Linked DNA regions of Homo sapiens: region 2 is linked to region 1. The links come from fine-mapping of genetic effects on gene expression. Tissue or cell type: monocytes. Region 1 holds a variant in brackets; the other region holds the start of a gene. All regions are shown on one strand. Distances are between the middles of the regions.

Region 1 (2,500 bases):
ACAACTTTATCACATTTACTTTTTGCCTTGGCTTCCAGAACTTCATAGTCAAGCCCGTTTACAGTAATTATAGTAATTTGTACAACTCTAGACTTGGAGTTTACTTCCTAGTGTTTTAAAATTTTTTCTATTTATTTTTTCTTGGCTTTATTTGTATCTATATTGTAAAATGCCTCATATCCTTTCTGAAAATAATATATAAACCAATAAATAGAAAAGAGTATATTAATTTCTATGAAAAATTATCAAGAAATTGGGAAAGGCTCATATCCCAAATAATATGAAAGCATTGGAGCAGTAGGATCTAAATTTACCTGTCTCCTCCATCATCTTCCATTTACTAGCACATGGAACAAGGGTAATAGTCATAATTTATGTCCCTTCCTCAACCAGATCTAGCATGTACTGTGTATTTTAGACCAGAAAGGACCAGGCTGCAGAAATACCACTATGACTAGTAACATACAGGTAGTCCTCCTCCTGCAACCCTACCACACACATACCTAAAACTTCTTGACCATTCTATCTGCTCTGTACTGGTAGATTGTGGAACAGGAGTTCTGTAGGACCCAAGCGTTATGTATATTGGAGAAAGGATTAAATAAGGGGCAACTAGGATGTTACTAAACCTAAGAAACTTTTTTTAGGTACTGTAGATACCAGGGTAGCTAATGATGAATGAGCCTGTTTACTCAGTAGCTAATTGCTAGGATAAACTAGTATCCTAGTAGCTTGTTGAATGTAACTATATTATTCAGTACAGTGGTTGAATATAATATAGTTCCAGATAATGGTAGGTTTAAAATTCCCAGGTGATAGATAAGACCATGGTTCAAAATAATTTATGCATAAGTGAACCTTAAGTATGTATTAAGTGTCTTTACTGTTCTCTTAAGGCAATAAGGTGTGGAAAAATTCATAGATACTCCCTTGGTTTTGCCTACTAAGCCATGGGCTTGGTTATTTCAAGCCTAAACT[C/CT]TTTTTTTTTTTTTTTTAAACATCTCAATTGGCTTTATTGGTGATTCTGGAATTGGGCAACACTTCATTCCATAAAATACATAAGTGTTCCGACAAGGTTGACTTTATAGACAGAGAAGGGCTGAAGAAAGACAAGCAAAGATCAAAGAACATGTTGATCATTTTTTTTTTTTTAATTGATCATTCTTGGGTGTTTCTCGCAGAGGGGGATTTGGCAGGGTCATAGGACAATAGTGGAGGGAAGGTCAGCAGATAAACAAGTGAACAAAGGTCTCTGGTTTTCCTAGGCAGAGGACCCTGCCGCCTTCCGCAGTGTTTGTGTCCCTGGGTACTTGCGATTAGGGAGTGGTGATGACTCTTAACAACGAGCACGCTGCCTTCAAGCATCTGTTTAACAAAGCACATCTTGCACCGCCCTTAATCCATTTAACCCTGAGTGGACACAGCACATGTTTCAGAGAGCACAGGGTTGGGGGTAAGGTCACAGATCAACAGAATGAGAATTTTTCTTAGTACAGAACAAAATGAAAAGTCTCCCATGTCTACCTCTTTCTACACAGACATGGCAACCATCCGATTTCTCAATCTTTTCCCCACCTTTCCCCCCTTTCTATTCCACAAAACCGCCATTGTCATCATGGCCCGTTCTCAATGAGCTGTTGGGTACACCTCCCAGACGGGGTGGTGGCCGGGCAGAGGGGCTCCTCACTTCCCAGTAGGGGCGGCCGGGCAGAGGCGCCCCTCACCTCCCGGGCGGGGCGGCTGGCTGGGCTGGGGGCTGACCCCACCACCTCCCTCCCGGACGGGGCGGCTGGCCGGGCAGAGGGGCTTCTCACTTCCCAGTAGGGGCGGCCGGGCAGAGGCGCCCCTCACCTCCCGGGCGGGGCTGCTGGCTGGGCGGGGGGCTGACCCCCCCACTTCCCTCCCGGACGGGGCGGCTGGCCTGGTGGGGGCTGACCCCCACCTCCCTCCTGGACGGGGTGGCTGCCGGGCGGAGACGCTCCTCACTTCCCAGACGGGGCGGCTGCCGGGCGGATGGGCTCCTCACTTCTCAGACGGGGCAGCTGCCGGGCGGAGGGTCTCCTCACTTCTCTGACGGGGCGGCCGGGCAGAGACGCTCCTCACCTCCCAGACGGGGTCGCGGCTGGGCAGAGGCGCTCCTCACATCCCAGACGGGGCGGTGGGGCAGAGGCGCTCCCCACATCTCAGACGATGGGCGGCCGGGCAGAGACGCTCCTCACTTCCTAGATGGGATGGCGGCCGGGAAGAGGCGCTCCTCACTTCCTAGATGGGATGGCGGCCGGGCAGAGACGCTCCTCACTTTCCAGACTGGGCAGCCAGGCAGAGGGGCTCTTCACGTCCCAGACGATGGGCGGCCAGGCAGAGACGCTCCTCACTTCCCAGACGGGGTGGCGGCCGGGCAGAGGCTGCAATCTCGGCACTTTGGGAGGCCAAGGCAGGCGGCTGGGAGGTGGAGGTTGTAGCGAGCCGAGATCACGCCACTGCACTCCAGCCTAGGCAC
Region 2 (2,627 bases), 190 kb before region 1:
CACATGCATATGCCACTACGTACACAGACACATGTCCTCAGCCGTGTTCGTGCTCCGAGGGTGGGCCTTAACAAGAACAGCCCTCTGGGGGGCCTCCTGGGGTAGGAGATAGAGAAAGGGCTGTGGAGAGACGCGGGCACCTGGGAGGAAGGAGGAGGGAGATGGGGCTTACCTCTCGGCCCTGGCACCTAAGTTAAAGAGTTAAGGTGCTGGAATCTCAAACCCAGGCTTGACTGCCCCTGGGCAAGTTATATAACCGCCACCCCTCCCTTCACTGCTTCCTAATGAGAGTAACAGTACTTATCCCAAGGGTGATGCTGGAGGATTAAACGAGTTAACTCACTTCAAGTGCCTAGACACGTCCGGCTCCATGTGAGTGCTTCACTGAGGCCCACTGTCCCTACAGATCTACACCGGCGCACTCACGGGCAGTTACCCATAGACCCCCCAGTAGGCACACTCTGGCCAGAGTGCAGGTAGGCGCAGAGAGGCACACGGAGGGGTTTGGGCAGTTGGGGAGCGGATCGTCTCAAAGGCAAAGACGCTGAATCTCAAATGAGGAACCGAGGCGAGAAAAGGATGTGGGATTCACCGAAGTTGAAGGGCCGGGAAGGGCCTGAGATGGGGTCTCGGCCCTGTCCCCAAGCCGGGCGGCCCGGCCGGCTGGCCTCCCTGGGCGGCCACGTCTGCAGCCCCCGCCCGGGGCCCACAGGGGAGGAGCTGGGGTGGAGAAAGCGGCCGGGCGCGGGCGCCGGGGGCCGAGGAAAATCGTGTCTGCGCGCGCAGGGCGGGGAGCCAGTGGCAGCGGCGCGGTCCAAAAAAAGTTGAGTCCGCACCGACGTGTGCGCGCAAGGTCCCGGGATAGGTGCGGGCGCGGGCCCGGGATGGCGGCCCCGGGTGGCAGGCCCCGCTGCCCCGCCACGGCCCCTCAGAACGCGCCCTCACCGTCCGAGTCATCCAGCTCGGCGCGCTCCCCGTAGTCCACCCAACTGAGCCCCTCGAGGTTGTCATAGTCGCCGCGCCTCGGCCCGTCCACTGGCACCACGGTGAAGTGAGGCATCGTGCGGGCTCGGCCCCGCCGCACCCGCCGTCCCAGCCGCCCGCCGCTGTCCCCGCCGCTGTCCCCGCCGCCCCGGGCCGACACGCCCCGCCCGCTCGCATTCCTCCCCGCTGCGCTCACTTCCTCCGCCCGCCCCCCGGGCCGCCCCTCGGGGGCGGAGAGCGGGAGGGGCTCGGCCGGCTCCTCCCAGAGCGGGGGCCCTGGTGGCGGGAAGACCCCTGGGCGGGAGCACTCCTAGTGGCTCCACGGCCTGGGGGCGGGCCCGATTCCTGTGTGACCTCGGGTGAGAGGCCGCCCTCTCTGAGCCCCAGATGCAACATTTGTAAAATGGGGGAAACACACTTCCACCTCGGGGTTGTTTTAGGGCTCCGTGAGATGGGTCGCGGAGTGTCCTGGCTCTGCGCCCTGGGCTTACGAAGCGCTCTGTTACTTAGGGACGGGGCAGGGTAGGCCGGACCGGCCCAGGACTGCAGAAGCCACCTGCCCAGGGCCTCCCACCAACCCCGTATACCTCCTTCCCATTTCCAGCGTCTGCATCCCATTTCTCCGCGACCCTGGGAACCAGACCCCCGCGAAGGTCCCGTCCCAGCCCTGGGCCCTCTAGCTGCAGCCTCTCCTGTTGGAGGCAGCTGGGGATTCTCGGTCCCTCCCCAGGGGCTGCTGCGTCCTCCGCAGGAAGAACACGCACACCCACCCTTCCCCGCCCCGCTTGCCTCGCTTGCCTTTTTGGGACAGTGCACTGGGTGCTGTAGCCAAGTCCCTTCATTTTAACTTTCTCTATCTCGCCTCCTGGGTGTTCCTCTATCCAAGCCGTTTACTTATTTGCTTTTAACGTTTCTTTCACTTTCTTCTCCACTGCTTCAGATTACTTATCTAGCTGGCTTTACTATTTTTTTCTCTATCAGAAAACCCCAGAGCCCATCTTACTTGTCTATCTCCACTCTTCTCCCTCGCGTGGCTCGGGTGGCGTCCTCTGACTACGCCTACTGCCAGCCTCCAGCCCTTGGGGTGGGGGGTACGGAATCAGAGCCGCTGGGCCCCGCAAGACGACCCCCGAGCTTACCACCCTCTGACCCCTCCCCCAGGGCCCCCGCAGCGGGCCCGCCGACCTGACCCCCCCGCCCCTCACGCCACCTTCGGCCGCCCACAGTAGCGGCCTTCCTACTGGACTCCCTGCCCTCGCCCCTGCTCACGTAGAGCCGCCTCTTCTGAAGGAAAATCCTACTAGCTCCGGGCCCATAAGGCCCTGCCCAATGCGGCCGGACCCCGACCTCTGCAGGCGCATCCCTCGCCACCCACCTCGCAGCCTCAGCCCTTCAAATCTCTCTCTCTCACCTGAGACCTATAGTTTCTGGGCATCACCCACTGTTCACTCTGGGGGACATCTACCTAGCCTCTGTCCCTACCCTCACTTATCAAATTCCTGATCCAGGCCTGGCGCGGTGGCTCACGCCGGTAATCCCAACACTTTGGGAGGCTGAGGCGGGAGGATCACCTGAGGTCAGGAGTTTGAGACCAGCGTGGTCAAATAGTGAAACCCCGTCTCTACTAAAAATACAAAAAAATT

Which allele goes with the higher level. Positions count from the first base shown, and alleles are read on the strand shown. Sizes are in standard deviations (SD) of each study's normalised expression.
For the expression in monocytes of the gene that starts at base 1,144 in region 2, CT is the high allele of the variant in region 1 and C is the other (moderate effect, 0.49 SD a copy in Quach 2016).

Evidence for each region. PIP is the estimated chance that this variant, and not a neighbour inherited with it, causes the effect.
Region 2: it holds the start of SLC12A4, and the variant in region 1 is fine-mapped to the expression of SLC12A4 in monocytes (Quach 2016, PIP 0.95).

Annotation. Positions count from the first base shown.
Region 1 is chr16:68,161,611-68,164,110 of GRCh38, forward strand. All of the region lies in intron 4 of NFATC3 (nuclear factor of activated T cells 3), which reads left to right. Among named protein-coding and RNA genes, the nearest start is that of MIR6773, 71 kb to the right of the region's middle. RefSeq lists an enhancer at 1,954-2,500. The variant C/CT (reference allele first, on the strand shown) is at 979.
Region 2 is chr16:67,967,494-67,970,120 of GRCh38, forward strand. SLC12A4 (solute carrier family 12 member 4) reads right to left here and starts at 1,144. Exons shown (of 24, transcript NM_005072.5): 1 at 946-1,144. The coding sequence starts at 1,060. RefSeq lists silencers at 37-96, 607-936, 1,067-1,396.